5 separate regions of the Homo sapiens genome follow, and regions 1, 2, 3 and 4 are each linked to region 5. The links come from fine-mapping of genetic effects on gene expression. A gene starts in region 5. Each other region holds a variant in brackets. All regions are shown on one strand. Distances are between the middles of the regions. Region 1 has its middle 17 kb from the start of CD177. Region 2 has its middle 7.0 kb from the start of LINC03078. Region 3 overlaps CD177 (CD177 molecule). Region 4 has its middle 22 kb from the start of PSG9. Region 5 holds the start of TEX101 (testis expressed 101).

Evidence for each region. PIP is the estimated chance that this variant, and not a neighbour inherited with it, causes the effect.
Region 1: its variant is the best candidate, but not a certain one, in a credible set for the expression of TEX101 in whole blood (INTERVAL, PIP 0.58).
Region 2: its variant is the best candidate, but not a certain one, in a credible set for the expression of TEX101 in whole blood (INTERVAL, PIP 0.60).
Region 3: its variant is the best candidate, but not a certain one, in a credible set for the expression of TEX101 in whole blood (TOPMed, PIP 0.82).
Region 4: its variant is the best candidate, but not a certain one, in a credible set for the expression of TEX101 in whole blood (INTERVAL, PIP 0.68).

Annotation. Positions count from the first base shown.
Region 1 is chr19:43,367,624-43,374,105 of GRCh38, forward strand. It overlaps the pseudogene CD177P1. Among named protein-coding and RNA genes, the nearest start is that of CD177, 17 kb to the left of the region's middle. The variant C/T (reference allele first, on the strand shown) is at 3,088.
Region 2 is chr19:43,321,223-43,327,704 of GRCh38, forward strand. No RefSeq gene overlaps it. Among named protein-coding and RNA genes, the nearest start is that of LINC03078, 7.0 kb to the right of the region's middle. The variant G/A (reference allele first, on the strand shown) is at 3,231.
Region 3 is chr19:43,359,805-43,366,286 of GRCh38, forward strand. CD177 (CD177 molecule) reads left to right here. Exons shown (of 9, transcript NM_020406.4): 6 at 461-601; 7 at 1,339-1,524; 8 at 1,641-1,775; 9 at 2,284-3,368. The coding sequence ends at 2,516. Among named protein-coding and RNA genes, the nearest start is that of CD177, 9.4 kb to the left of the region's middle. RefSeq lists an enhancer at 4,401-4,902. The variant G/A (reference allele first, on the strand shown) is at 2,701.
Region 4 is chr19:43,287,813-43,294,294 of GRCh38, forward strand. No RefSeq gene overlaps it. Among named protein-coding and RNA genes, the nearest start is that of PSG9, 22 kb to the left of the region's middle. The variant T/G (reference allele first, on the strand shown) is at 2,654.
Region 5 is chr19:43,411,364-43,417,845 of GRCh38, forward strand. It overlaps TEX101 (testis expressed 101), which reads left to right and starts at 3,527. Exons shown (of 6, transcript NM_001130011.3): 1 at 3,527-3,675; 2 at 4,518-4,620; 3 at 4,736-4,879; 4 at 5,010-5,192. The coding sequence starts at 4,557. RefSeq lists a silencer at 1,728-1,914.

The DNA.
Region 1 (6,482 bases), 44 kb before region 5:
AGCCAGCCCAGCCCTCTCCACCACCCTTGAGGTGGTGTATCTATGCCTGGTTTACAGTGTGGAAACTGAGGCTCAGAGACGGGGACTGGATTGTGCACGGTCACCCAGTCACGAAGGCCAGGAAATGATGGATGGGATGCAGGCTGTGCGCTCAGCCACCTCCCCGTGGAGCAGTTCAGGGGCACTGGGCATCGGGTCGCCCTGAAGATGCTGCTCTTGTCTGTCTGCCTCTCTCTTTCCACCGCACTGGGTCTCTGTTTCTGGCTCTGTCTCCTCCTCACTGTGTGTCTTTGGCTCACTTTGTGTCTTTTCATCTCTGTGTCTCCCTGTCTCTCTCTGTCTTTGTCTCCCTCTCACTTGGTCCCTTCCTTCCTTTCTTCCTTCCTTCCTTCCTTCCTTCTTTCTTTCTTTCTTTCTTTCCTTTTTCTTTCTTATTATAACACCATTGATTTTTAATCAAGGATCCACAAGCTTGGGTCCTCTCTTGTCTCACCCTAGTCCTGCCCTGTGTCTCTCTACGGCACACCTTTTACTTCTCTGGCTCTGACTCTCTGAGTTCTCCCTCTGTCCATGCCTCTCCCCTCCCTCCATCTCTCTGTGTTAGTGTCTCTGTACCCTTTCCTCTCTGCCTCTCTCTGTATCTCCCCTCTCCACCCCCATATATCTCTGACTCTGTCTCTCTCTGGGTCTTTATCATTTTCTCTTTCTCTCTCCATCCCTGCCCCCATTCTCTCTCTGCCTTTCTCGATCTCTCTGTTTCTCACCCTCCTTCTGCCTTCCCCTAAGCCAGGGACTTCATGGCTCTGATGGCTGTCCAGCGGTGTTGCCCATTTTTATTGAAGTATCCTTCTGTCGACCCACTTGGAAAGACTTCCAAGATACACTGCACAGTGAGAAAAACAAGAAGCAGAACAGTGCACAGTGTGCCACCTCTGGCATTACAAAGGAGGAAATGTAAAATGAATTTATAAATGGCCAATAAGCAAATAAAATTTGGTCAACATCACTTATCATTAGGAAAATGGAAATCAAAACCACAGTGAGATACCACCTTACATCTGTTCTGATGGCAGTTCTGAAAAAAAAAAAAAAAAAAAAAACAAAGTGTTGGCGAGGAGAAATTGGAATGCTTGTGCAGTGTTTGTGGGTATATAATATGGCACAACCACTGTGGTCATTTCTCAAAAAATTAATCATAGACTTACCACACGATGCAGCAATTCTACTTCTGGTGTATTCTGAAAAGAACTGAGAGCAGGGGCCCCAGCAGGTATCTGCATGTCTTTGTTCATAGCAGCATTATTCACACTAGCCAAAGGTGTAAACAAGCCAAATGATATGGCTTTCCTCTGTCCGAACACAAATCTCACGTTCAGCTGTAATTCCCAAAGGTCGAAAATAGCCTCCTTGTCCCAGCCACCTGACCTCCCTCTGTAATGAGATGCCGTTCCCCCGACTGCAAGTGACTCAGGCTCCCATGGCACCTGTCCTCCTGCCCCTCCCTCTACCACATCTGTGAGCTCCTGGGAAGCCCTGTGACCTCATACAGAGGAGGAAAGTGCAGACCAGGCTTATGGATGGGTCCTCACGGTGAGCTGGCGCCCAGCAGAAGTGGACGGCGGCTGCCTTAGTGCCCACTTCAGGTGGTCCTGAGGAGTGATGAAGGGAAATCCTTCAGATGGGCAGAACCTCAGGGGTTCTGCAAGGAGGGATGGACTTGGGTCCATTGCATGAACCCAGAGCGGGCCACATGGTCAAGGACTTGAAGAGAATAAAAGAGTAAACTTAAGACAGGGAGGACACATGGATGTTCCTCTGGGGATGGGCACAAAGTGTGAGCTATGCCGTCCCCACCCTTAAGCCCAGAACCTGTGCTGTGGGGATGAGGTTCTTGGTGTTTGGTGGATGGTGTCAGGCAGACTCTGTCCCTCAGAGCTTGTTCAGGGGGTCCAGGTGCAGATGGCCACATGGATAGGGAGGACGGCGACGTACCTTACCACAAGTGGACTGAGTCTCCCAGCACTGGCCTGGCTGCACACTGTACCCAGCCCTGCCCAGTGTAGGCAGAGCCCGGGGCTAAGCCCCTGGAAGGCGTCATTTTACAGGAGGACTACCCGGCCACTGCAGATAGGCTGGCCACACAGGACACGTCCCATCCTGGAGGGGACTGGGCTTTGTCCTCACACGGATACGCACACACTGGGGGTTCCAGTTGGCCTTCCCTGGACCCTGCTCAGTGCTTCTGTGAACAGCGCCTTTCCTGTGGCTCTGGAACCCATGCAGGGTTGCTTCCACTGGGGACACGTGTTAACGCAAAGAATGGGGGGTAATTAACTCACACCCATGGAACCCACTGACCGTCTCAGGTGCCCCTCTATACAGACACAGCTGCTTCTCAGATTGGCGCAATGGCTCATGTGTGGCTTATCAGGGCACCGGGAGGGAGACCGTACCCCACCACCCACAGGAGGGGCCACACATCTTATAAACCAGCAACCAGGCTATCGGGTCACGCGCCCCAGGGCCAGATGCAAAGATCCAGGAAAGACAGGAAGAATAAGCGCGGCTCCCTCCCGTGACTGCACCTGCCAGCCCACTGAGAGAATGCTTGCTCTTTGTCCCCGTGGCCCTGGGCTGCTGTGGATGAGGAATCTCTTCCTAGTTCTGATCTGCAGGAAGCCATGACAGCCCTCCAGCCATCCTGTGCCCCTTGTGCTGCCAAAACAGCAGGCAAAGGAGACGTCACTCTGCAGTCGGGGGAATGGCATCTGATTACAGAGGGAGGTCGGGTGGCTGGGACAAGGAGGCTATTTTCGAAGGCAGGCAACTCATGGCGGTAACATTTCCTTGGCCAGGGCCCTGTTCCATGGAAAACTATAGAAACCCACTAAAGACAAGGCCATCCAAGACTCACTCTCCATAAGAATCAAGATTTGGGTTACACTGCAGGTAACAAATAACATCCAAAGGAGGTTTTGGAGGTGGGAGGACAATGTGGAATGTACTGGAAGAAAGCAGCTCTGAGCACCAGCAGCCCCGCCCCCAGGACCTCAGCAGCTGTATTGGAAGCCATCTCTTCCCCATCTT[C/T]CTCTCATTGTGGGCGAAGAACTGGTGCACAGCACAATGGGAGGAGGACATCACTGTCACCATCACACACTGTTACTGTGACAGAGGGAAGGACTGGAATTGTGTGTCGTCTGTACGGAGGACTCTGATTATTTTTTCCCCCTTGAGACAGGGTCTCGCTCTGTCCCCCAGGCTGGAGTGCAGTGGTGCAGTCTTGGCTCACTGCAGCCTTGACCTTCTGGACTCAGCCTTCTCAGTAGCTGGGACCACAGGCGTGCACCACCACACCCGGCTAATTTTTTGTTGTCTTAGTGGAGACTGGATTTCACGGTATTAGCCAGGATGGTCTCAATCTCCTGACCTCATGATCTGCCCGCCTCGGCCTCCCAAAGTACTGGGACTACAGACAGGCACGCACCACCACACCCGGCTAATTTTTTGTATTTTTTGTAGAGAAGCAGTTTCACTATGTTGCCCAGGCTGGTCTCAAACTCCTGGGCTCGAGTGATCCTCCCACCTCAGCTTCCCAAAGTGCTGGCATTACAGGCGTGAGCCACCGAGCCTGTCCTGGACTCTGATTTTCATCTGGACAAAGGGAAAGGGTGGATGCCGAGGGGCAAGGGAGTGAACGGTGCTAGACGTGTTCTGTTTCCTTCTCCAGATTCACTCTCTTCTCCTCTTCCCTTTCCTCTCCTCTGTTCTCTACTGTGAATGGCAGATCTATGGGGGCTGGACCAGTGGAGTCTCCTGCTTCTGTGGCCTCTAGGGGGTTCAGTCAATGGGGAACCTCAACTGGAGACCAGAGTGAGGACATCAGTTTGGAATTTTAGTTCCCCACTTCCCTCCCCAGTATCATTGCGGGCTGGACGCGTTTTTCAGCCTGAGATGGGAGCTCTTGTTAGGCAACCCTCTCTGAATATCTCTCTCTTTCTGTCTCCGGCTCTCTCTCCAGCTCTCTCTGTCTCTTTCTGTCTATGTCTCTCTCTCTCTCTCTCTCTCTGTCTGCAGATTCCAGCAGTGGCTCTTCTCCTCACCCTTTTTGGGCTATGGTGGTAAGAGATACCCAATGGTAACAGCTCTGGGAAAATGCTAACCCATTTTTTTCTGGAGTTCTCTTTAGCCCTTATGTCAATTATCCCACAATAGGCAGATGCTACATAGCAACGTTTGGGTCAGTGACGAATTGCGTATAGAACGGTGGTCTCCTGAGATGACAATAGTGTATTTATGCTGTACCTTTTCTATGTTTAGATGTGTATAGATGCACAAATACTTGCCGTGGTGTTACGATGCCTGCAGTATTCACACCATAACATGCACTGCAGGCTTGTAGCCTAGGAGCAGTCAACTCTACCATCCATCCTGGGTGTGTATTGGGCTGTACCATCTGGGTTGGTGTAAGTGCACTCTACAATGTTCCTTTCGTGATAAAATCACCTAACGACACATTTCTAACGACACGTCCCTGTCGTAAAGCAATGCATGACTATACTAACCTCTCCTGCAGTCGCTCAGATGGGGCCAGCCCCCTGTTTGTGCTAGGGCCCTGGCTGCTAGGCTGGAAGCCTCATACATCTCAGTGCATCTTCCCCTCCCAGGTCATGGTGATGCCCAAATACGTTTGGCTGGAGCACCCTGAAGTCTCTGCTACCATCCAAGCTGGTTTGGAGACATGAACCAGACCAATGAAGGGCAGGCTTTGGATGGCCATTTTCTCATTAGGTTCCTCTCCTCCACCATGCTAGATCCCTGGGCGTCCTGCTGTCCCCTTACATGGAGAAATCCCAGCACTGGGAGAAAGCACAGGGTCTTTATTATCAGACACATGCAGCCACTCCTCCAGTGTCCCCTCTCCCACAGGGCAAGTCCGGCTGCTCCAGGCTCTCCCCAGTGTTGCTATTAGGTGAGTAGATATGAATGATTATGTGTGGGGAAGATGATTCATGGACAGGATGGGGAAATAATCTGGTGTCCAAGGCCATTAGGTTACAAGCACAAGGGACGGTTGAGTGTGGTGGTGAGCAGCGGTGAAGAATCGTGGGGGAAATGGAGTTAGCAGGAAGGGCAAACCGCTCCCCACCACAGCGCTGGGGCCAGTGCCAGCCCCACCCCCCAAGTGAGACACTCCAGGCCCCCAGCCCCACCTCCCTCATGCTGAGAGGCAGGAGGCGGCTCATCACCCTTCTCACACACAGAGAAGATCCCAATTTGTCTGGTGTGGTTCAACAAGGAGCTGGAAGGTTGGGCCACACAGCCCTGAATGCTCATTCTGGTGGTCAGCCCACCTAGAGGGAGAAGACCAAGTCAGAAAGGACACAGAGTACAGCCCAGCCAAATTCATAAACCCAGGAGTCCAGGCCCCAGACCCTCCTCCCTCAAACGCAGGAGCTCAGACCCCCAGCCCCTCCTACCTCAGACCCAGGAGTCCAGGCCCCCAGCCCCTTCTCCCTCAGTCCCAGGAGCCCAGGACACCAGCGCCTTCATCCTTGGGGCCCTGCTTGCAGCACTCACCTCCTGAGAGATGAATGTACCCATCATAACAATGAGTGGCGCCCCTGGGGCAGGTCATTCGGGGGGAGCCACTTGAACAGGTTCCAAGGGGCTGCACACAGGTAGGACACTGCCGGTCTCCTGGGACAGGGGCAGCTGGGGAGCAGAGGGAAGGTGGGGGTACATGACTTTGTGCTCAGAGCAGCTGCCCACCTTGGGCCAGAGTCTCTGTGTGTCTGGGCCTCATTTCTCCACGGCCCTGGATCCCATACCTTGAGGAGGGAGGGAGTTCAGCAGAACGCTGCTGCTGCTGGCACTATTGCACAGGTCCGAGGAGCAGAAGTGGGTATAGGAGGCCACAAGCACCCCAGGAGGGGCTGAGTGGATGGTGGTCTTCTGGGAATTTTGAGCCCCAACAGCGCTGCAGCTTTAGGTCGCCACCAGGGTTGATGTGAGTCCTGAGGGTGAGAGGGAAAGCTGGGCTGGGGACTGGGCAGCTCCCAGGGCAGCAGGGGCTCCAGAGCTGGACTCCCTGCCCTTCACAATACCCCCCAGGCAGAGGGTGAATGCCCTGATCACAACTGCTGGGTCATGTTTAGTGTGGGGCAAAGACGGAGGCTGGGGCCTGGGTCCTGCCCGAAGCTCTGCCTCCTCCCAGTTCTCGCTCAAACGTCACCTTCTCCATGAGTCTCCCCTGAGCACTGAGCTTAAAATTGCAGCCTTCCCCTCACTTTTCCTATCTCCTTTTCCTTGCCAGATTTCTCTCCAGAGCTGGGATCTCCATTCCCCATACTTTGCTGCTTTTTGTTTGTTTGTTTCCTGTTTCTCAAGGCATATAAAGCTGCAGGAATACAGATGGGATTGGATCTGCGGCACCTAAAACAAATGCTGGATAAACATTTCCAGAATGTATGAAGCCACTGAGA
Region 2 (6,482 bases), 90 kb before region 5:
GCCTCTTGAGCAGCTGAGATTACAGGCACGTGCCACCACACCTGACTGATTTTTGTATTTTTACTAGAGACTGGGTTTCGCCATGTTGCTGGTCTTGAACTCCTGGCCTTGAGTAATCTGCCCGCCTCAGTCTCCCAAAGTGCTGCCATTACAGATGTGAGCCACTGCCTCTGGCCATCTCTTTTGTATCTTTGAAAGATTTTTTTTCAGTTGACTGAAATCTTTTTAAATCATGTGCTTAGTCTGTCTGGTTTTTTTCTTAAAAATTCTTTTTCTGCTTATTTCTCTTTCCATCCTTCCTCTTGCTATTCTTGATGCCACATGAGGGAACCTAAAGAATTTCTGACAGCCTGGAACCCCTTAAGGAAAACAGAAAAGATGCCACAGACTTCCCTATTTAGGAGAAACCACTGTTTTTCCTCATGGAACCCCAAGAGTTGTAAGTAAATGGATTCCTCTCAGGTCTAAAACTCTGCTCTCTTTTCCATTTTCCCTGACCTCTTTGGCTTTTGGGGGCATCAGAGATTACTTTGCACTGTAAAAATGCTTGACCTTATATGTGTGATGGCTGCTGGGTCACTGGTAAGAGCTTTGGTTTTGGAGGTGACTAACAGCGCTCGCAATAAATGATTATTACTTCAGAATGCTACTCATTTCTTTGCAAGTTTAGATAAGAAATACACAGTTTAAATAATTAGAAAAATGCCCTTATAGCAAAGTACACTGTGGAAGTGTTGCATAGTATGGTTCCATTGGCATTTTCCTCTTCTCAGGGACCTGGGATTCAGTGAAATCCTTGATTTATAAAGGTCTGGATGCTGTCCCTTGCAACTGGGTCTTCTTTTTATGTATTTAAATTATTAGGATCTAAAAGTTGCAAGACTTCGTTGGTCCTCTTCCTTAATGGGCTCTGTCCTGAGCTCAGTGGTCCAGTTGGAAAACAGAGACCAAATTAAAAGCTGCCTATCTAAATAAAATTGGTCTCCTTATAAAATCCTATGGTAAATTTCTGTCATTTTTGTGTTACCTTGGCATCTATTTTTAATCTTCCTTGAACACACACAAATTCCTTCTTGTAAAAGCTTTAGTTCTCTTTCTCTCTGTGCTTTGAGATGTAAATTTGCTACCAATTTTCTCTAAAACTCAATAAAGTCTGGCTTAATTAAATGTTAACCTCTTCCATTTACAAAGGCACAAATTTAATCCAACTGTCTTTTTTAAATACTGAATTTGATCGGTCCTATGCTGAAATCAAAACTCTAAACTCTTTCTGCCTCCCTCTATCTTTATGTGCACATGTGTATGTTATATGCTGTATCACATATATGTCTATGTCCATACATATGATTATATGTTGTTTACATACATGGTATCAAATTAATGTAAAAATAAGTACTCATAAATTAAGTAAATAATCCCAAATGCTTTTCAATACATGTGATTTTAGTAATCTTTGGTAAATAAAGATAGTTTAAAAATTATTGGTAAAATGAAGTAGAAATGTCTTCAGATTTAATTTAGACATTTGTGCCTGGGTCTGTTGGCAGACATTTTTATATTGTATTTACTAGATGTTTTAGGGTCATCATATGGTTGCTTCTGTATATATACATTTTCTTAATTTTTCTGTGACCTTATATCTTTAGATTTGAGCCTTTAGATTCTGAGTTCTAGATGAGCGACCATAGCAAGAACTGGGGACAAAACTCATCCCATCCCACAGCTGTGCCTTTTGGCCATGCTGGAAGAGATTAGATTCTCCAGGTATAATCTTCATAGCTTTGCTGTTTATCTTGGGCTTTACACCTGGTAACTAGTTAGAATTGCTTACTTCCTGTTTTTTCTCTCCTGAAAATAATGCTGTATTTGTTTGTTCTCACATTGCTACTGAGAAATACCTGAGACTGGGTAATTTATAAAGAAAAGAGGTTGAATTGGCTCATGGTTTGGCATGACTCTCACATTTGCTCAGCTTTTGAGGAGGCCTCGGGAAACTTACAATCATTGTGGAAGGCCAAGGCAGAACAAGGCATCTCACAGGTGAGAGCAGGAGGAAGACAGCAAGGGTTACACACTCTTAACCAGATCACCTGAGAACTCACTGTCACTAGGAAAGCACCAAGAGGAATGGTGTTAAACCATGAGAAACCATCCCCATAATCCAATCACCTTCAACCAGGCTCCACCTACAACTTTGGAGATTACAACTTGACATGAGATTTGAGTGGGAATATAAATCCAAAACATATCATTCTTTCCCTGGTTTCTCTCAAATCTCATGTCTTTCTTTTCATACGTGTCCGTGTGAAGAGACCACCAAACAGGCTTTGTGTGAGCAACATGGTTGTTTATTTCACCTGGGTGCAGGTGGGCTGAGTCCGAAAAGAGAGTCAGCAAAGGGAGATAGGGATGGGGCCATTTTATAGGATTTGGGAAGGTAATGGAAAATTACAGTCAAAGGGGGTTGTTCTCTGGTGGGCAGGGGCGGGGGTCACAAGGTGCTCAGTGGGGGAGCTTCTGAGCCAGGAGAAGGAAATTCACAGGGTTAATCACTCAGTTAAGGTGGGGCAGGAACAAATCACAATGGTGGAATGTCATCAGTTAAGGCGGGGCAGGGCCTTTTCACTTCTTTTGTGATTCTTCAGTAACTTCAGGCCATCTGGGCGTATACGTGCAAGTCACAGGGGATGCGATGGCTTGGCTTGGGCTCAGAGGACTGACATTCCTGCCTTCTTATATTAATAAGAAAAATAAAACAAAATAGTGTTGAAGTGTTGGGGTGGCGAAAATTTTTGGGGGGTGGTATGGAGAGAGAATGGGCGATGTTTCTCAGGGCTGCTTCAAGCGGGATTAGGGGCGGGTGGGAACCTAGAGTGGGAGAGATTAAGCTGAAAGGAGATCTTGTGGTAAGGGGTGATATTGTGGGGTTGTTAGAAGAAACATTTGTCATATAGTATGATTGGTGATGGCCTGGATACAGTTTTGTGTGAATTGAAAAACTAAATGGAATAAGAAGGAGAAAAACAGGTATAAAAGGTCTAAGAATTGGGAGGACCTAGGACATCTGATTAGAGAGTGCCTAAGGAGATTCAGCATAGTCCTGCCAGCAAAGATTATTTATTTACTTCAAGAGTTAAGAGTGGCAGTTTGGGGATAGCACGAGGAGATATCAGCTGTGATGGCTTGGAGAAACAGTGTAAACTGGCAGTGTGAACAAGAGCAGGGCATGT[G/A]TGAGTAGTTGAGAATGGAGAATAGGAATATGACTAGACAGAAAATAGTAGGGATGACAAGTTTTCTTGGGGGCACAGTCTAAGTTGGTCCAGTGTCTGGAATGAGACTGGGGCCTAATAAAAAGGAGCATCTATACAGGAGCTTAAATGGGCTGTACCTTGTAGCATTCTGAGGACAGGCCTGAATTCTGAGAAGTGAAAGTGGTAAAAGTATTGTCCAGTCCTTTTTAAGTTGGTGGCTGAGCTTGGTGAGGTGTGTTTTTAAAAGACCTTTAGTCCGTTCTACTTTTCTTGAAGACGGAGGACCGTAAGGGATATAAAGGTTTCACTGAATACTAAGAGCCTGAAAAACTAATTGGCTGATTTGACTAATAAAGGCTGGTCTGCTATCAGACTGTATAGAGGTGGGAAGGCTAAACTGAGGAATTATGTCTGACAGAAGGGAAGAAATGACTGTGGTGGCCTTCTCAGACCCTGTAGGAAAGGCCTTTACTTATTCAGTGAAAGTGTCTATTTAGACTAAGAGGTATTTTAGTTTCCTGACTCGGGCATGTTGAGTAAAGCTAATTTGCCAGTCCTGGGTGGGGGCAAATTCTCGAGCTTGATGTGTAGGGAAGGGAGGGGGCCTGAATAATCCCTGAGGAGTAGTAGAATAGCAGATGGAACACTGAGAAGTTATTTTCTTGAGGATAGATTTCCACGATGGAAAGGAAATGAGAGGTTCTGAGAGGCAGGCTAGTGGCTTGTACTATAGCATAGCCTGCATTTGCTGGTATGTGGCGATTAGGCCTGGTGGAACTGCCATCAATAAATCAAGCGTGATCAGGGTGAGGAATAGGAAAGAAGGAAATACAGGGAAATGGGGTGAATAGCAGGTGGATCAGAGAGATACAGTCATGGGGGTCAGGTGTGGTATCAGGAATAATGTGGGAGGCCAGATTGAAGTCCGGGCCAGGAACAGTGGTAATTGTGGGACTTAACAAAGAGTGAGTACAGCTGAAGGAGCCGGGGAGCAGAAAGTGTATGCGTCAGGTATGAGGAAGAAAATAGATTTTGGAAGTTGAGAAATGTAGAGAGTGAGTTGAGCATAGTTTGTGATTTTCAGGGCCTCTAAAAGTATTAAAGCAGCGGCAGCCGCTGCACACAGACATGAGGGCTAGGCTAAAACAGTAAGGTCAAGTTGTTTGGACAGAAAGGCTACAGGGTGCGGTCCTGGCTCTTGTGTAAGAATTCTGACCACACTAACCATGCCTAGGAAGGAAAGGAGTTGTTGTTTTGTAAGGGATTGAGGTTTGGGAGATTAATCAGACATGATCAGCAGGGAAAGCACGTGTGTTTTTGTGAGAATTATACCGAGATAGGTAACAGATGAGGATGAAATTTGGGCTTGACTGAGGTAATGGGGGCTGTCTGTGAAGCCTTGCGGCAGGACAGCCCAGGTAATTTGCTGAGCCTGATGGGTGTCAGGGTCAGTCTAAGTGAAAGCAAAGAGAGGCGGGGACGAGGGGTGCAGGGGAACAGTGAAAAAAGCATCTTTACGATCAAGCACGGAATAGTGAGTTGTGGAGGAAGGTATTGAGGACAAAAGAGTGTTCGGGTTGGGCACCACAAGGGGGATAGGCAAAACAATTTGGTTGATAAGGCACAGATCCTGAACTAACTTGTAAGTCTTGTCTGGTTTTAGGACAGGTAAAATGGGGGAATTGTAAGGAGAGTTTATAGGCTTTAAAAGGCCATGCTGTAGCAGGCGAGTGATAACAGGCTTTAATCCTTTTAAAGCGTGCTGTGGGATGGGATATTGGCGTTGAGTGGGGTAAGGGTGATTAGGTTTTAATGAGATGGTAAGGGGTGCATGATCAGTCGCCAAGGAGGGAGTAGAGGTGTCTTATACTTGTGGGTTAAGGTGGGGGGATACAAGAGGAGGACGCAAAGGAGGCTTTGGATTGGGAAGAAGGGCGGCAATGAGATATAGCTGTAGTCCAGGAATAGTCAGGGAAGCAGATAATTTACTTAAAGTGCCTCAGCCTAATAAGGGAACTGGGCAGGTGGGGATAACTAAAAAGGAGTGCTTAAAAGAGTAGTGTCTAAGTTGGCGCCAGAGTTGGGGAGTTTTAAGAGGTTTAGAAGCCTGGCTGTCAATACCCACAACAGTTATGGAGGCAAGGGAAACAGGCCCTTGAAAAGAAGGTAATGTGGAGTGGGTAGCCTCCGTATTGATTAAGAAGGGGATGGACTTACCCTCCACCGTGAGAGTTACCTAAAGCTCGGCGTCCGTGATGGTCTACGGGGCTTCTGAGGTGATCAGGCAGCGTCAGTCTTCAGCCGGTAAGCCAAGAAGGAGTCAGTCAGAGAGCCTTGGGCCCAGAGTTCCTTGGGCTCTGGGAGTGGCTGCCAGGTGAGTTGAACAGTCCGATTTTCAGTGGGGTCCCACACAGATGGGACGCGGCTTAGGAGGAATCCCAGGCTGCGGGCATTCCTTGGCCCAGTGGCCAGATTTCCGGCACGTGTAGCAAGCGCCTGGGGGAGGAGGTTCTGGAGGAACGCCTGGTTGCTATGGTTCAGGCGTTTGGAAGTTCTTGTGTGCTGGAGATGTGGCTGGGGTTTGTCTCACAGTGGAGGCAAGGAATTGCAACTTTTTTCTGTTATTGCACACCTTGAAGGTGAGGTTAATTAAGTCCTGTTGTGGGGTTTGAGGGCCAGATTCCAATTTCTGGAGTTTTATTTAATGTCGGGAGCAGATTGGGTAATAAAATGTATATTGAGAATAAGATGGCCTTTTGACCTTTTAGGGTCTAGGGCTATAAAGCGTCTCAGGGTTGCTGTCAAACGAGCCATGAACTGGGCTGGATTTTTATACTTGATGAAAAAGAGCCTAAACGCTATCTGATTTGGGATAAAGAAAAAGGAGCATTAACCTTGACTATGCCTTTAGCTCCAGCCACCTTTTTAAGAGTAAATTGCTAGGCAGGTGGGGAAGGGCTAGTCACGGAACGAAACTGTAAGCCGGACCAGGTGTGAGGAGGGGAGGCAATAAAAAGATTACAGGGTGGAGGAGCGGAGGCTGAGGAAGAATTGGGACCTAGCTTGGCCTGGCAAGGAGGGGAGAGGTCAGATGGGTCTGTAGAAAAGGAAGATTAGAAAGACTCAGCGACGCTTGGGGTTGGGACTGAGGGGACAGGCGGGAGATTTGGGACGAGTTGCACTGGGCACAGAGACTAGGAAGGGACTGATGTGTAAAAGAATGCCTGGACG
Region 3 (6,482 bases), 52 kb before region 5:
GAGGTCAGCCAGGTGCAGAGGCAGTGCTCAGCGGCAGTGCTCAGCCCACCCTGGCCCTTCGCATCTTGTTTGGAACATAGGGCTTTGCAACTGAAAGGTATGAGAAAGGTCTCAGGCTGCCTTCCTTATTATTGAAATGAGGACCTTAAAGCTCAGATGGGGAAGCAGAGATGGGATGAGGATAAGGAAGAGCTTCCATTGCTCTCACAGCTAAAGCAAGGAACGGCCGTTCCCCCAGGGCTGTGAGAGGACGTCCCTGCGGGTGTTCAAGCAGAAACAGGGAACAATGGGGGTGGGATTTCGACTCCCAAGTCCCTTCTGAATCCTTGGTTAAGGGAATCTGTGGCCAGGTCACCTGGAGTGTGACTCAAGAGTGTGATCACCTTCCCTAGCCCAGGACGTGGAGGGACAGACATGGTGGGTTCCTGGCTTACACACACCCTGGGATTCCTCTCCCCAGATTTTCTGACCTGTCATCGGGGGACCACCATTATGACACACGGAAACTTGGCTCAAGAACCCACTGATTGGACCACATCGAATACCGAGATGTGCGAGGTGGGGCAGGTGTGTCAGGAGACGCTGCTGCTCCTAGATGTAGGTACGTGGACTGAGGTAGAAGACGAACACCTGTCCCAAGTCCCTGGCAGCTCCCTCCACCCCACTGGATTCTTTCCCCTGAATTTCCTGCTCAGCTCCCTTCACATCTGCAATTTTCAATCCGACTCTTCTTCTCTCTGCATCTTGGGTTCCCCTTATGAAAACTGGGGGTGAAGCAGTGGGAATGACAGTGTCTGCCTTTCTGGGGAGGGGTGACCACGTATGCGGTAATCCCTGCCCAGGGTGGAGAACCGTGCCAACACCGAGGACTCTCAGTGGCTTCATACATTCTGGAAATGTTTATCCAGCATTTGTTTTAGGTGCCGCAGATCCAATCCCATCTGTATTCCTGCAGCTTTATATGCCTTGAGAAACAGGAAACAAACAAACAAAAAGCAGCAAAGTATGGGGAATGGAGATCCCAGCTCTGCAGAGAAATCTGGCAAGGAAAAGGAGATAGGAAAAGTGAGGGGAAGGCTGCAATTTTAAGCTCAGTGCTCAGGGGAGACTCATGGAGAAGGTGACCTTTGAGCGAGAACTGGGAGGAGGCAGAGCTTCGGGCAGGACCCAGGCCCCAGCCTCCGTCTTTGCCCCACACTAAACATGACCCAGCAGTTGTGATCAGGGCATTCACCCTCTGCCTGGGGGGTATTGTGAAGGGCAGGGAGTCCAGCTCTGGAGCCCCTGCTGCCCTGGGAGCTGCCCAGTCCCCAGCCCAGCTTTCCCTCTCACCCTCAGGACTCACATCAACCCTGGTGGGGACAAAAGGCTGCAGCACTGTTGGGGCTCAAAATTCCCAGAAGACCACCATCCACTCAGCCCCTCCTGGGGTGCTTGTGGCCTCCTATACCCACTTCTGCTCCTCGGACCTGTGCAATAGTGCCAGCAGCAGCAGCGTTCTGCTGAACTCCCTCCCTCCTCAAGGTATGGGATCCAGGGCCGTGGAGAAATGAGGCCCAGACACACAGAGACTCTGGCCCAAGGTGGCCAGCTGCTCTGAGCACAAAGTCATGTACCCCCACCTTCCCTCTGCTCCCCAGCTGCCCCTGTCCCAGGAGACCGGCAGTGTCCTACCTGTGTGCAGCCCCTTGGAACCTGTTCAAGTGGCTCCCCCCGAATGACCTGCCCCAGGGGCGCCACTCATTGTTATGATGGGTACATTCATCTCTCAGGAGGTGAGTGCTGCAAGCAGGGCCCCAAGGATGAAGGCACTGGTGGCCTGGACTCCTGGGTCTGAGGGAGGAGGGGCTGGGGGCCTGGACTCCTGGTCCGAGGGAGGAGGCGCTGGGGGCCTGGACTCCTGGTCCGAGGGAGGAGGGGCTGGGGGCCTGGACTCCTGGTCTGAGGGAGGAGGCGCTGGGGGCCTGGGCTCCTGGTCCCAGGGAGGAGGGGCTGGGTGCCTGGACTCCTGGTCTGAGGGAGGAGGGGCTGGGGGCCGGGGCTCCTGGGTCTGAGGAGCTGAGGCTCTGGACTCCTGGGTCTGAGGTAGGAGGGACTGGGGGCCTGGACTCCTGGGTCTGAGGGAGGAGGGGCTGGGGGCCTGGACCCCTGGGTCTGAGGAGCTGGAGCTGGGGGTCTGGGCTCCTCGGTCTGAGGGAGGAGGGTCTGGGGCCTGGACTCCTGGGTTTACAACTTGGCTGGGCTGTACTCTGTGTCCTTTCTGACTTGGTCTTCTCCCTCTAGGTGGGCTGTCCACCAAAATGAGCATTCAGGGCTGCGTGGCCCAACCTTCCAGCTTCTTGTTGAACCACACCAGACAAATCGGGATCTTCTCTGCGCGTGAGAAGCGTGATGTGCAGCCTCCTGCCTCTCAGCATGAGGGAGGTGGGGCTGAGGGCCTGGAGTCTCTCACTTGGGGGGTGGGGCTGGCACTGGCCCCAGCGCTGTGGTGGGGAGTGGTTTGCCCTTCCTGCTAACTCTATTACCCCCACGATTCTTCACCGCTGCTGACCACCCACACTCAACCTCCCTCTGACCTCATAACCTAATGGCCTTGGACACCAGATTCTTTCCCATTCTGTCCATGAATCATCTTCCCCACACACAATCATTCATATCTACTCACCTAACAGCAACACTGGGGAGAGCCTGGAGCATCCG[G/A]ACTTGCCCTATGGGAGAGGGGACGCTGGAGGAGTGGCTGCATGTATCTGATAATACAGACCCTGTCCTTTCTCCCAGTGCTGGGATTTCTCCATGTGAGGGGGCAGCAGGACACCCAGGGATCTAGCGTGGGGGAGGAGAGGAGCCTAATGAGAAAATGACCATCTAAAGCCTGCCCTTCATTGGTCTGGTTCACGTCTCCAAACCAGCTTGGATGGTAGCAGAGACTTCAGGGTGCTCCAGCCAAACGTATTTGGGCATCACCATGACCTGGGAGGGGAAGATGCACTGAGACGTATGAGGCTTCCAGCCTAGCAGCCAGGGCCCTAGCACAAACAGGAGGCTCGCCCCATCTGAGCAACTGCAGGAGAGGTTAGTACAGTCATGCATTGCTTAACGACAGGGACGTGTCGTTAGAAATGTGTCGTTAGGTGATTTTATGACCATAGGAACATTGTAGCGTGCACTTACACCAACCCAGATGGTACAGCCCAATACACACCCAGGATGGACGCTAGAGTCGACTGCTCCTAGGCTACAAGCCTGCAGTGCATGTTATGGTGTGAATACTGCAGGCAATCTTAACACCACGGCAAGTATTTGTGCATCTACACACATCTAAACATAGAAAAGGTACAGCATAAATACACTATTGTCATCTCAGCAGACCACCGTTCTATACGCAATTCGTCGCTGACCCAAACGTTGCTATGTAGCATCTGCGTATCGTGGGATAATTGACATGAGGGCTTGAGAGAACTCCAGAAAAAAATGGGTTAGCATTTTCCCAGAGCTGTTATCATTGGGTCTCTCTTACCACCATAGCCCAAAAAGGGTGAGGAGAAGAGCCACTGCTGGAATCTGCAGACAGAGAGAGAGAGAGAGAGAGAGACATAGACAGAAAGAGACAGAGAGAGCTGGAGAGAGAGCCGGAGACAGAAAGAGAGAGATATTCAGAGAGGGTTGCCTAACAAGAGCTCCCATCTCAGGCTGAAAAACGCGTCCAGCCCACAATGATACTGGGGAGGGAAGTGGGGAACTAAAATTCCAAACTGATGTCCTCACTCTGGTCTCCAGTTGAGGTTCCCCATTGACTGAACCCCCTAGAGGCCACAGAAGCAGGAGACTCCACTGGTCCAGCCCCCATAGATCTGCCATTCACACTACAGAACAGAGGAGAGGAGAGGGAAGAGGAGAAGAGAGCGAATCTGGAGAAGGAAACAGAACACGTCTAGTACCGTTCACTCCCTTGCCCCTCGGCATCCACCCTTTCCCTTTGTCCAAATGAAAATCAAAGTCCAGGACGGGCTCGGTGGCTCACGCCTATAATGCCAGCACTTTGGGAAGCCGAGGTGGGAGGATCACTTGAGCCCAGGAGTTTGAGACCAGCCTGGGCAACATAGTGAAACCGCTTCTCTACAAAAAAATACAAAAAATAAGCCGGGTGTGGTGGTGTGCGCCCCCTCCCTCTACTGGTCCCAGCTACTCAGAAGGCTGAGTCCAGGAGGTCAAGGCTGCAGTGAGCCAAGACTGCACCACTGCACTCCAGCCTGGGCGACAGAGCAAGACCCTGTCTCAAGGGGGAAAAATAAATCAGAGTCCTCCGTACAGATGACACACAATTCCAGTCCTTCCCTCTGTCACAGTAACAGTGTGTGATGGTGACAGTGATGTCCTCCTCCCATTGTGCTGGGCACCAGTTCTTCACCCACAATGAGAGAAAGATGGGGAGGAGATGGCTTCCAATACAGCTGCTGAGGTCCTGGGGGCGGGGCTGCTGGTGCTTAGAGCTGCTTTCTTCCAGTACATTCCACATTGTCTTCCCACTTCCAAAACCTCCTTTGGATGTTATTTGTTACCTGCAGTGTAACCCAAATCTTGATTCTTATGGAGAGTGAGTCTTGGATGGCCTTGTCTTTAGTGGGTTTCTGTAGTTTTCCATGGAACAGGGCCCTGGCCAAGGAAATGTTACCGCCATGAGTTGCCTGCCTTCGAAAATAGCCTCCTTGTCCCAGCCACCCGACCTCCCTCTGTAATCAGATGCCATTCCCCCGACTGCAGAGTGACGTCTCCTTTGCCTGCTGTTTTGGCAGCACAAGGGGCACAGGATGGCTGGAGGGCTGTCATGGCTTCCTGCAGATCAGAACTAGGAAGAGATTCCTCATCCACAGCAGCCCAGGGCCACGGGGACAAAGAGCAAGCATTCTCTCAGTGGGCTGGCAGGTGCAGTCACGGGAGGGAGCCGCGCTTATTCTTCCTGTCTTTCCTGGATCTTTGCATCTGGCCCTGGGGCGCGTGACCCGATAGCCTGGTTGCTGGTTTATAAGATGTGTGGCCCCTCCTGTGGGTGGTGGGGTACGGTCTCCCTCCCGGTGCCCTGATAAGCCACACATGAGCCATTGCGCCAATCTGAGAAGCAGCTGTGTCTGTATAGAGGGGCACCTGAGACGGTCAGTGGGTTCCATGGGTGTGAGTTAATTACCCCCCATTCTTTGCGTTAACACGTGTCCCCAGTGGAAGCAACCCTGCATGGGTTCCAGAGCCACAGGAAAGGCGCTGTTCACAGAAGCACTGAGCAGGGTCCAGGGAAGGCCAACTGGAACCCCCAGTGTGTGCGTATCCGTGTGAGGACAAAGCCCAGTCCCCTCCAGGATGGGACGTGTCCTGTGTGGCCAGCCTATCTGCAGTGGCCGGGTAGTCCTCCTGTAAAATGACGCCTTCCAGGGGCTTAGCCCCGGGCTCTGCCTACACTGGGCAGGGCTGGATACAGTGTGCAGCCAGGCCAGTGCTGGGAGACTCAGTCCACTTGTGGTAAGGTATGTCGCCGTCCTCCCTATCCATGTGGCCATCTGCACCTGGACCCCCTGAACAAGCTCTGAGGGACAGAGTCTGCCTGACACCATCCACCAAACACCAAGAACCTCATCCCCACAGCACAGGTTCTGGGCTTAAGGGTGGGGACGGCATAGCTCACACTTTGTGCCCATCCCCAGAGGAACATCCATGTGTCCTCCCTGTCTTAAGTTTACTCTTTTATTCTCTTCAAGTCCTTGACCATGTGGCCCGCTCTGGGTTCATGCAATGGACCCAAGTCCATCCCTCCTTGCAGAACCCCTGAGGTTCTGCCCATCTGAAGGATTTCCCTTCATCACTCCTCAGGACCACCTGAAGTGGGCACTAAGGCAGCCGCCGTCCACTTCTGCTGGGCGCCAGCTCACCGTGAGGACCCATCCATAAGCCTGGTCTGCACTTTCCTCCTCTGTATGAGGTCACAGGGCTTCCCAGGAGCTCACAGATGTGGTAGAGGGAGGGGCAGAAGGACAGGTGCCATGGGAGCCTGAGTCACTTGCTGGCCTCAGACCTGCTTGAGCCTGACCCCATGCTCAGCTGTCCCGTGGATGCTGGAGGCTGCTGTGCATGCCCCAGGTTATGGTTTGGTAGCTCAGAGAGCACCCGGCCCTGAACTTGATTGCACTTGGCCCAGGGATGAGCCAAGAGCTGCTTTCCGAATGGTCAGAGTTACCTGCAGGAGGAGGCGCGGAATTTCTCTAGAACCTCCAGCTCTGCACTGTTAATCTTTTGGAGCTTGTGAAAATCTCCATAAAATAATGCACTAGATTTGAAACATAGACTCTCTTACATTTTTTCGTTTCTAAATATACTCTAAATATACTCATCCAGGAGTTATCGAGAATAATATTTTGCAATTCCAACTGGAGTAATGTACTGGGAAGTGCTGTGGTTCATTTCTTTCTTTCTATTTTTTTTTTTTTTTTTGAGAT
Region 4 (6,482 bases), 120 kb before region 5:
AGTGGGCTGGGTCAGATAAAGTCAGAATCCATGGGGAAGGGTATGTGTCCTGGCAGTGCCGAGGTTCGTGCCTCCAGGTTAGCTCTGAGTCTCTGCAAATACATTTATGTTGTGCATGTGCTGTTTGCTGGACGGTACTTCTTGAACCTGTCTGCAGATAATGTCATGAGAGGTCTGCATGGAAGTGTATGAGGGCTATGTGATTAGGGTGGGTGTGTTTTACACAGCGGGTTTTTTTTTCACCAAACACTTTTCAAAAAATTGTGGTTGAGTGTGTATATAGAAACACATACATACTTGTATTTGTTAGATGTGAATATATATTCATATAAATTTGACATGTAGATACATATGTCTATAAATATACACACATATATATGTGTGTATGTATATGTGTATATGTATATATATGTATGTGTGTGTGTGTATATATATATATGTGTGTATATATATAATGTGCCATTTTAACCACTTAACTTAAGGAGAGAGATAGAGGGAGAGAGAAGAGAGTTTCTACTAATACCAAATCTGGGTTAAATAAGGGTGGTCTTATTTCCTGGGGTTGGGCTTTTGCTACATGTGTCCTGTTGGAAGTGAGCTAGAGAGGTTACATGCTTAACCAATTTAGAGATTTTCTATATGAAAATCATCTGTGAGCACATTGATAAGTTTTATCCTCTTCTACGTGAAAAGCTTGATGAAGGATTTTAAGGATTTCTCGTTGGCTGAAGGCTGGCAAACGGAGTTTGCCATCCTCTGACTACAGCCATTCTGAGGACTGGAAAGGATACCCTGAGAAGTGGCCTATTTTATTTCTGCAGGAAGGTACTGAGGTTTAATTTATCTTATGGAGTCTTCCTAGATTAGAAGGCTTTGAGGTGTGTTGATGCCTTGCCAGTGACTTAGCTGCCTGATCAGTGAACCTATTTCTTTTGGCTACTTCATCTGTTCCCTTTTTGATGTTCTCTATAATGTATCACTGCTATTTCTCATGAAAGAAAACTGACGATAATAACCTGTTAATTTTTTGGTGATATTTTATAGGAAGTCCATTAGTGGTAAGAAAATGCCTTTTATTTTAAATGGCAGCATGAGCATGAAGAACTCAAAAAGCATACTTGGAATCAGTGTAAATGTTAGCTACCTTTCCCTTGCTTAATTTAAGTGCTCTTGTATTAACTGTTTGTTTAGCTGATTGAGCACCTGCACCTGAAGAGAGATATTATTTAGAGTGACTACTGCTTATCCTACCTTACGTATTTCTTGCTTTACCAGCTGATTGTTAGCTAAGAGCTCCCTCTAGAGGAAAGTAATTTTGCCACATTAAGTGGGGGTGTAAACCGTTTTTTCCTAGGGTTAATTTGGAGGCTTTTCTGATTAGTAGAGCTATTGTGACAGTGGTTTGGAAGCAGATGTAAAAAATAGGTCCTCCTAACTGCAAATAAGAGGCTGAGAAAAATATTGGATTAGAATTTTTCCTGAGACACCCCTTATGGTTGTGCTATGGGAAGAGGGGAGGCCTGGATAAGAAAGGAGAAAAGAGAGAGACTAGATCTAGTGTTTAGAAGGAGGTCTACTTTCCTCCCTATAATTTCCAGAATGACCTGTGTCTCCTGTGCTGTAATGGCAGTTTGAGCTGCTGGAGCCAGGGGTTTGAGCCCCAGGACCCATCAGTCCTGCTGGACCACTGTGAGACTGGTTCTGAACCCAGTGACCTCCATCTCTGGGAGCAGTTGCATCTCCAGTGGTCTCCACCACAGGCTGGACAGGGTCAAGGTGGCTTCCTCTTGCTCTTTGGACACTTCTTCCTCAAATGCCCTGGCTTGCCACACCGAGAGCAACTAGTGGATACACCTCTGGGATCCTGGACTTTGCAACTCTGCAAAGCAGCTACTAGAGGCTTTGTCCTTCTCTTGAGCTTTCTCTCTTTCTTCTGGGCCTTCTCCTAGTCCCTATTATAAAAGACTGAAGTGGCTACCCTCAGAAGGTTTTCCAAGGTGCTATCTGCTACTATAGCTTGCCTTTTATAGGTTCCTTCTAATATTGGGAGCTTTATGTATAATAAACTTATCTTTTGGAATGGGCTGTCACTTGACTGAATCAGGAGATAAAAAGGTGTGTGCTAATAGTGCCCCTCTCAACCTATCCATAAAGGCTGCAGGATTCTCATCTGGCTTTGAGTCTATCCTAGACAGTTTAGAGGAATTAAGAGGTCTGGCCTTAGTTTTTCTTTTTCATTCATCTACAGGGCTATTGGGGTTTCAATCAGGGTTGTCAAGAGGTACTGCTTCACTTACTATTTGGAATGGTGTTTCTGCTATTTCTTCACTTTCTGTATCTCCTTCCTTCCCTTTTGGTGTATTATAGGAGATATGTTGCTCATCTCCAAAATTCTCTGCTGCTTGCAGAGCTGCCTGTTTTTCAGCTGCAGTTAGGGTTTGGATTAGGAGCAGTATAACATCCTTCCATGTGAGGTGAAACACCTGACTTAAATTCTGGAAAGCTTCTATATACCTGTCAGGATTGTCTGAAAATTGGCCTAAGTCTTACTTTATTTGCCTAAGGTCCTGTAATGAGAAGGGAACTTGGAGGGACCCCAAATTATGGAGATTCTCAGATGGTTCCCTTGGAAGTTGCTTTTCTAATTCTAGGA[T/G]ATTATTCTTTATAAGCCTGCCTGATATGGCTGTTAAAAAATCTGGGTTGCTGTTACAATGCTTGTAAAGGTTTAGTAAAAATGCCCTGTCATTTTGCAAAATAGAATGAGTTGCTTTTCTCTTGAAAGTCCTGAGGTTAAAAGAGTTCTAGTGCCTCAGAGTGCGCTCCAGAGGGGTGCAAGCTGAAGATGCTCTGTTAGCCATTGAGAAAAAGAAGTGAGAATAAAAGTGTCCTTATAGTCCTCCTTATTTCATTGAGACCCAGAGTGGAGTGGAAGACAGTGGGAGCGTCCCCCCAACTGTTTTCTCTCCTTGGTTCCTGAGTCCCGGCACTATGTTAAATGTGCTGCCCATGGTTGTAGGTGTGGCCCTGTAAGCCATGGAACTAGATAAATGAAGTGATGGGATTAGCCACACTTTACCCATGCAACATTAGCTTATCTGCCTGTGATCTGCCTGGCTTCCTGAAAAATGGATCTCTCGAGAAACTGTAACAGTTGCCTTTGAGCAAGCTTTCTTTAACAGAGGGAATGTGCCAGTTGCCAGATACGTGCTAAAGCATTTACCCTCAGAAAAGTGGTCCTGGTTAACTCTGTTCTTAAAGTATCCTTACTAATTAAATACTGTTCTAATTGGAGATAGAATAGGTACTTTAAATGAATGTAGGGACCTAATGGCAGTTTTTCCTGCTGATGCAGCAGTATCAGAACTAAAATTTGGCTATGGAAGACATTTTACTCCTAATTGTTGAAAGCAGAGCTTTCCCATTCACAGAAAGGGCTTTTCTATCAGTGCAAAAAGAGAGAATTGGAAAAGTGCAGTGTTATGGCAAAGGACCAACAATGTGCCTTATGAGGAGGATTTCTATTTCTACTAGATGACATTGTTGGCTTAGAAATACCACGTGCTTACCAAAGGAAGGAGAGAGAGAGAGAGAGAGAGACTGAGACACCTATTGGGTTAGTTATTATAGCATTTACCGATCTTTCCTAACAGAACTGTTTCCCTGAACTGTAAAAATTTCCACATATTGCATACACAGAAAGAATAGGAGACATAGAGACCATGGATAGAAAGGAAGAACAAATTTGCAACAGGATAGCAAATTAGGAGACCCATTACCAACATCTGGATGGGCTGCCGGAGGCTGTGTTCAGTCCAGAAGCCTTTGAATAACATCAGGGTGTGTCCTGGCCAGAAATTCTCAGCTGTTCCAGGACATCCCCCAGCCTCATGTGATGGTGAGGTTCTCCATGAAAGGAAACTAGTTGGAAGAGAACCTTGAAATTAAAGGACAGATTTGAGGTTTGCTCCATACTCACCATTCTGATGTTTCTATCTTCTCTTCTGATCACAATCCCAGATGAGAACTCCCAAATAAAATGACTCTGTTTGGGAATCTATCCATGGTTCTTTGTCACACACTGAGAAAGAATTCAGGACATGGAAACACATGAGGAGTGTGTTTAGGATTGAAAAATTTAACAGACAAAAAAGAAGAGAGAGAGAAAAAGCTTTCTCATACTGAGAAAGCAGTCACCCAAGAGAGGGTCTCCAATTTGGGGTGGAATGCAATTGATTTTGTACAGAGACTTAAGGAGGCAGTGATTGATTTACATAGGGTCCAGGGGATTGTTTTGACCAGGTGTTCCATTTACATAGCCTGAAAAAAGACTGGCCCTCCCATCCTATTCTTTTATTATGCAAATGTGGCTTCTACCTGGTGGTCACCATGAAATTAGGAGATATACCTAATGTTAAATGATGAGTTAATGGTTGCAGCACACCAACATGGCACATGTATACATATGTAACTAACTTGCACGTTGTGCACATGTACCCTAAAACTTAAAGTATAATAAAAAAATAAAACCCCATGGTAAATTTCTATTTTTTTGTGTTACCTTGGCATCTATTTTTAATCTTCCTTGAACACACCAAATTTTCTCTTGAAAAAGCTTAAGTTCTCTCTCTCTCTCTTTGCTTTGAGATGTAAATGTGCTATGTATTTTCTCTAAAACTAGGTAAAGCCTTCCTCAGATAAATGTTAACCTTTACCATTTACAAGACAGCAATTTGAATCCAACTATCCTTTAAAATGGTGGGTTTTACTGATCTCATGCCTAAACTCCTAAAATCAAAATTCTAGAATCTTTTTGTCTCTCTCTATCTTTATGTGAACATATATATGTTTCATCACATATATGTATATGTCACACGTTTATATACTGTTTACACATAGTATCAAATTAATGTAAAAATAAATGAGTACTCACAAATTAAGTGAATAAGCCCAAATGCTTTTCTATATATGTGATTTTAGTAACCTTTGGTGAATATAGATAGCTTTAAAATTGTTGGTAAAATAAAGTAGAAATGTCTTCATAATTTAATTTATACACTTTTGCCTATGTCTGTTGGCAGGCAGGTTTATATTGTCTTTACTAGATGTTTTAAGGTCATCAAAGAGTTGCTTGTGTATATATACATTTTCTTAATTTGTCTGTGAGCTTATGTCTTTATATTTGAAGCTTTAAATTCTGAGTTCTAGATGAGTGACCATAGTAAGAACTGGGGACAAAACCCATCCCATCCTCCAGCTGTGCCTTTTGGCCATGCTGGGAGAGGTGGGATTATCCAGGCATTTTCTTCATAGCTCTGTTCTTTGTCTTGGGCTTTGCATCTGGTACATAGTTAGAATGGTTTACTCCCTAGTTTTTTTTCTACTGAAAATAAGGCTGTATAAGTCTGTTTTTACATTGCTACAGACAAATACATGAACCTGAATAATTTATAAAGAAAAGAGTTTGAATGGTCTCATGATTCAGCAGGTTGTAGAGTAAGCATGATTCTGGCATCTGCTCAGATTTTGAGGAGGCCTCAGAAAACTTACAATCATGGAGAAAGCCAGTGGTGGAGGAAGACATCTTATATAATGGGAGCTGGAGGAAGAGAGCAAGGGTTGCACACTGGTAAAGAACCAGATAAAACTCACTGTTGCTATAACAGCACCAAGGAGAATGGTGTTAACATATGAGAAACCACCTCCATGATCCAATCACATCCAACCAGGCTCCACCTCCAACTTTGGAGATTACAATTTGACTTGAGATTTGGGTGGGGGTAAAGGTCCAAAAAAAATTATTCTCTCCATCTTCCCTCCCAAATCTCATGTCTTTCTCACATTTAATAATATAAGAATGGCTTCCCAACAGTCTCTAGAGTCTTAACTCACTCAGCATTAACTCAGAAGTCCAAAATAGCAAGTTTCATCTGCGACAAGGCAAGTTCCTTTTACCTATGAGCCTGTAAATTCAAACACAAGTTAGTTACTTTCAAGACACAATGGAAGTATAGGCATTGGGTAAATACTCCCATTCCAAAGGGAAGAAATAGGCTGAAGGAAATAAGATACAGGCCCCATGAAAGTCTGAAACCTTGCAGCACAGTCTTTAAAACTTAAAGCTCCAAAATAATCTCCTTTGACCCCATATCTCATATTCAGGGCACACTGATGTAAGGCTTAGGCTTCCAAGGTTCTGGACATCACAAGAACATTCCAAGAGAGTCACAAAAGAATTTGTAGTGTGGCTTTTGATGCTAAACAGCATATTAGACCAAGTAAGTCACTGAAGAGAAAAAAGTCAGAGGAGAAGATGGGTGAGGGTGACAGAAATGGAATGGTGAAAGGAAAGGTCTGATAAAAAAGTTTACCGGCTGGGCATGGTGGCTCATGCCTGTAATCCCAGCACTTTGGGAGGCCGAGGTGGGCGGATCACAAGGTCAGGAGTTTGAGACCAGCCTGACCAACATGGTGAAACCCCATCT
Region 5 (6,482 bases):
CCGTGCCTGGCCCATTAGAAAGTTTTAAACAGGAGTAATGTGGTGTGGCTTGCAATTAAGAGATCGCTCTGGTGCCAGGTGGGAAATAGCCACATGGGCAAGGGCAGGGCGTACTGCAATAATCCAGTGACCAATGGTGGTGTCACAAGTGCTTATATAAAAAGATGCCTTCACTGTATATTAGCCATTGAGCTTTTTTCTTTTTTACAAACGTTCCATGGATTCATAAACTATTTGCCAACCATTGCTCTAGACTAACCTCCTCATTTTCTTTTTTTTCTTTTTTTTCTTTTTTTTTGAGACCAAGACCAAGTTTTGCTCTTGTTGCCCAGGCTGGAGTGCAATGGTGCAGTCTCAGCTCACTGCAACCTCCGCCTCCCAGGTTCAAGTGATTCTCCTGCCTCAGCCTCCCAAGTAGCTGGGATTACAGGCGCGTGCCACCAGGCCTGGCTAATTTTTGTATTTTTAGCAGAGACAGGGTTTCACCGTGTTGGTGAAGGTCAGGCTGGTCTCAAACTCCTGACCTCAGGTGAACCACCCACCTTGGCCTCCCAAAGTGCTGGGATTATGGGCTTGAGCCACTGCACCCAGCCTAACCTCTTCATTTTCTAGATGAGGACACTGAAGCTTGGAGAGGAACAGAAATTGGCTCAGGCTAAGGAAGATCTGTCAATCTCTCTTGCACCAAAAAGGCAAAGCCACCTTTCTCAAGGGGCTGTGTATTGGGGTGTTCTTGCACTGCTATAAAGAAATACCTGAGACTAGAAGTAATTTATAAGAAAAGAGGTTTGATTGGCTCAAGGTTCTGCAGCTGTACAGGAAGCGTGGTGCCAGCATCTCCTTCTGGGGAGGCCTCAGAGAGCTTTTACTTATGGCAAAAGGATGCAGGCCAGAGAAGGGGAGCGAGAGAGAGTAAGAAGGGGAGGTGCCACACACTTAAACAACCAGATCTGGCAAGGACTCACTCATCATTGCAAGGACAGCACCAAGTCATGAAGGATCTGCCCCCATAACCCAAACACCTTCCACCAGGTCGCATCTCCAACACTGGGAATTACATTTCAACATGAGATTTGGGCGGGGGACAAATATCCAAACTATGTCACGGAGCAAGAGGAGGTCCCTGGAGCTGTTGAAGCAGAAATGGGGTGAAGAATAGAGGTGGAGGGTGCTTAGGCTTCCAAGGTCTCTTCTAGGTGTGAGATGGAGGGATTCTGCGACCAAGTCACCTGGAGAGTGACTCAACAAGGTGACTGCTTTCCCAAGCACGAGCCCTCGGGGGACAGACGGGGGCTGAAAACTGGCACACATTCTTCCTGGATCCTTTGACATGTGATCATTCAAAGATAACAGTTCAAAGATAACAAAGGGATTGAAGCTTTACCAATCCCTTTCTTATTGTGGCATTTTCTCTATTAAAAATAAATACTCATTTATACTATAACTTACAGAATCAGTACCAATTCTGAAAGTATACAAAGCGTTGCCTTACTTTAAGGAAGGAGACCACTACTACTCCTGCTGCCCTCCTCCCCCGACCTTGCCTAGTTCACAAGACAGGAGGAAAGAGAGAAAGCAAAAAGTTGGAAAGAAACAGAAGTAAGATAAATAGCCAGTCAACCTTGGCACCACCACCCAGCCCTAGGAGTTAAAAAAAGTAATAATAATAACAGCAACCCCTGACCTAAACTACTTGTGTTATCTGTAAGTTCCAGACATTATATGAAAAAGCATTGCAAAACTTTCTGTTCTGTTACCTGATGCATGTAGCCCCCAGTCACGTTTCCCACGCTTGCTCGATTTATCACGACCCTTTCATGTGGACCCCTCGAAGTTGTAAGCCTTTAAAAAGGCCAAGAATTGGCCAGGCGTGGTGGCTCATGCCTGTAATCCCAGCACTTTGGGGGGCGGGCGGATCACGAGGTCAGGAGATCGAGACCATCCTGGCTAACACAGTGAAACCCCATCTCTACTAAAAATACAAAAAAATTAGCCGGGTGTGGTGGTGGGTGACTGTAGTCCCAGCTACTCGGGAGGCGGAGGCAGGAGAATGGCATGAAGTCGGGAGGCAGAGCTTGCAGTGAGCCGAGATTGCACCACTGCACTCCAGCCTGGGCAACAGAGGGAGACTCCAAAAAAAAAAAAAAAGGCCAAGAATTTATTTTTCAGGGAGCTCGGCTCTTAAGACGCAAGTCTGCTGAGGCTCCCGGCCAAATAAACCTCTTCCTTCTTTAATCCAGTATCTGAGGAGTTTTGTCTGCAGCTCATCCTGCTACAACTTCATGTCACACCTGGAAAGCTTACATAGGCCAGGGGTGGTGGCTCACGTCTGTAATCCCAGTACTCTGGGAGGCCGAGGTGGGCAGATCACCTGAGGTTAGGAGTTCAAGACCAGCCTGGTCAACACGGCGAAACCCCGTCTCTACTAAAAATACAAAAATTAGCCAGGTGTGGTGGCAGGTGCCTGTAATCCTAGCTGCTCAGGGGAGACTGAGGCATGAGAATCGCTTGAACCTGGGAGAGGGAGGTTGCAGTGAGCTGAGATCACGTCACTGCACTCCAGCCTGGGGGATAGAGAGAGGCTCTGTCTCCAAAAAAAAAATACAAAAAATTAGCCAGGCATGGTAGCTTATGCCTGTAATCCCAGCTACCTGGGAGGCTGTGGTAGGAGAATCACTTGAACCCAGGAGGAGGAGGTTGCAGGGAGCCAAGATTGTGCCATTGCACTCCAGCCTGGGCAAAAAGAGCAAAAGTCTGTCAAAAAGGGAAGGGAAGGGGAGGGGAAGGGAGGGGAGGGGAGGGAAGGGAAGGTTACATAGATGTGAAAGTGAACTGCCAGCCATGAGCAACAAATCCGAGTGACATGTCTTCTTCATGGTCCTGACACGGACGCGTGGGTTCGATCTGACAGCAGCCTGTGCCATCATAGCTACTGCTCATGCATGCATTCGGGGTGCCCAAAGTGATGCTGAGGGGGGCATTCCTAGATTCAACCCTCCAGGAGACCATGAGGAGGCTGGTGCGATAGCGCAATCAGATGAAGACGCCTGGGCTGCACAGGGGCCACTGCAAGTGAAGACTCAAGAGGCCAAGCTGACTCCCAGAGGCTAGGGCCACTAAGGTGGGTGCCGAGGCAGGGGCCAGGCTGGGAACATGAGAGGCCATTTGGGTAGGGAGATAAGTTCCGTGAGTGAGGGCCAAGGGTCTGACCTCCTAGTGTGGCTGGAGAAGCAGAGACAACAGAGTGCAAAAAGAGAAATGGGCCAGGCGAGGCCATCTGGCAACGCACTGCCCACCCTCCATTGCGTGCCTCTGGCTGCAAAAACAGGCAGGATCTTCCGGCCGGTTTGCCCGCCACTCACCTTCCGAGCATGCGCACCCTCCGAGATTGCCAGGAATTGACTTCTCTGTGGCCAATGAGGTGCCGCGTTCCTCCAGGCTCATCCAATGAACTTATCCGATGCTTTTGCATCCACCAATGGGGTTTCGAGTGCTGTGTGGCCAGGCTGGCCCGGCCTTGCGTCGTAAGAGAATGCCAAGCCCGGGGAGAAGGCGTTCCGGGCCTCAACTTTGGCGTCGTGAGATTCTTGTGAGGCGTCTGCCTGGAAGCCGGCAGCAATTTTGCTTCTTTAAAGAGAAAAAGAAGGCTAGGGACTCAGATTCCTGGATTCTGAGGAAAGAGAAGGCTGGGGACCCAGATCCTGGCTCTGAGGGGAACGAGGGTTGGGGGCCTGGGCTCCCGGGCCTGAGAGGGAGGGGACCAGAATGGTGTGTCCCGCAGGAAAAGGTGGTTGGAACCCAGACTCCTCGATCCCTACATAGGACGGGGCTGGGCTCTCAGAATCCCGGGTTCTGATGAGGCTGGGGCTGGGGCTGGGGGCCGAGATTCTGGGTCCCTGAGAGAATGTAAGGGACCCCTGAGACTGAGGGAGAAGCGGCCTTCAGGGCCACACTCCTGATCCTGAAGTTGGAGGGCACTGGGTGGCCGGGCCTGAGAATTAAAACCATGAAAAACTGGGGCGTGATAAACCTGTGAACTCGCTCCAGCTCACAAGCCGGTTAGGGACAGAACGACTTTAGAAGTCGTGGTCATATACACCATAAACCCCACTGTGAGGCCGGGCATCAGGGCTCACTCCTGGAATCCCAGCACTATGGGGGGACGAGGCGGGCAGATCACCTGAGATCAGGAGTTCGAGACCAGCCTGACCAACATGGTGAAACGTCATCTCTACTAAAAATACAAAAAATTCACTGGGTGTGGTGGCGGGCACCTGTAATCCCGGCTACTCGGGAGGCTGAGGCAGGAGAATTGCTTGAACCTGATAGGCAGAGGCAGTGAGCCGAGATTGCGCCACTGCACTCCAGCCTGGGCGACAGTGCAAGACTCCGTCTCAAAAAAAAAAAAAATGCAGATTAAAACACCCCACCCTGAAGTCAGTACTTGCCAGGACCTAGATTTGATCTCATGCACTCTGGCTGAAAAGTTAATTGCCTTCTCTCCATCAAATTCACAGATCCAGACCAGCTCCTCCCAGACCTCTCCAGAAGAAGCCATGGGAACCCCTCGTATCCAGCATTTGCTGATCCTCCTGGTCCTAGGAGCCTCCCTCCTGACCTGTGCGTATGGGGGACATAGGGGAGAGCCGTGTGTCACAGAAGGTGGACTGATGATGAAAAGGGAGCCGCCTTGGCCCATGGAGAAGTGCTTATCCTTTTCTTGTTTTCTCCTCAGCGGGCCTAGAGCTGTATTGTCAAAAGGGTCTGTCCATGACTGTGGAAGCAGATCCAGCCAATATGTTTAACTGGACCACAGAGGAAGTGGAGACTTGTGACAAAGGGGCACTTTGCCAGGAAACCATACTAATAATTAAAGCAGGTGAAATGAGATGGGGCATTTGGGCTGGGTAGGAGGGAGGTTGATTATCTCCATGCCAATGCTTGTTCCCTTCGTCCAGGCCAATTGTGACGGCCACCATCCATTTCCCCTCCTTCCTGTCTCATAACAGGGACTGAGACAGCCATTTTGGCCACGAAGGGCTGCATCCCGGAAGGGGAGGAGGCCATAACAATTGTCCAGCACTCTTCACCTCCCGGCCTGATCGTGACCTCCTACAGTAACTACTGTGAGGATTCCTTCTGTAATGACAAAGACAGCCTGTCTCAGTTTTGGGAGTTCAGTGAGACCACAGGTACCCTGGAAGTGGGGGAGATAGGTACTAAGAGAAACTCCATAAAGAGCTTGTGTATGGCCTCCCTTTGCATTCTGACTTGGCTTAGCCTAAGTGGTCCATACCCCAAAGTACCTCACAGTTCAAGTAATTTTATGTTTCTGAATTGTTCATTGGGATCTAAACACTGCTCAGAGCAGCGAGATACCAGTGAAGCCTGGAGTGTAAACTGGGTTTTGTGTTTATTAAGCAATAAGACAGGCTGGGTGAGGTGGATCGCCTGAGGTCAGGGGTTTGGGACCAGCTTGGCCAACATGGTGAAAACCTGTCTCTACTAAAAATACAAAAATTAGCTTAGCCTGGTGGCGCACACCTGTAATCCCAGATACTCGGGAAGCTGAGGCAGGAGAATTGCTTGAACCCAGGAGGCAGAGGTTGCAGTGAGCCAATATCACACCACTGCACTTCAGCCTGGGACAGAGAGCAAGACTCCATCAAAAAAAAAAAAAAAAAAAGCAATAAGACATCAGTGTAGGTTTCCGAACAGGGTGGTATTATCAGTCTAACAAGTATTGGTTTCCCACTGCTGCACGAGAACGGCCCAGTTCCCCAATTTACAAGGCCTGTAGTAACTTGGCCCTTCCTGTCTTTTCAGCTTCATTTCCCTCTCTTCCCTCTCTCATTTACTGTGTGCTAACTGGGGCTAATACTCAAAATGCTTAACAATGTAGATGGCACTGGCCAATCAAAATGGATTCTGGCCATAAAAAACAAAAACAAAAACAAAAAAAACAGATCAAAGAAACAGCTGGGCCTACAAGCTGAATATGAGTCGTGCAACTTCTCACAATTCCCTGAATCCACCAAGCTGGCTCACACCACCTGACCTTTGTCCTTGCTGTTTCCTTTACTACCCTCCCCACCCCATTTTCACATAGCTAACCCCTGTTCATCCTCCATGTCAATTCAGGTATCAGCTCTTTGAAAATATTTGCCAAATTCTTTTAGGTAGTTGGGTATTCCTCCATTCCTTTGTCATTATACCTTGAACACAGCAGCTACTGAATTGATTACTTACATGTCTTTCTCCTAGGCAGAGATGCCAGGTGACAGGAACTATGTCCTTTTCATCTCTGTATCTTCACACCTCAGCAGAGTTTGGAAGTCAGATCGATGGAGATTTCACAGCAGAGAACACCAGCTGGGGAAGGATGGGGAGGCTGAAGTAATGGGCCTTGATTAGAGTGGCATCTGCAGGAAAATCTTGGGGAAGAGAAGGCAGCAAGGAGCAACATCTCTGGAGGCAGGACC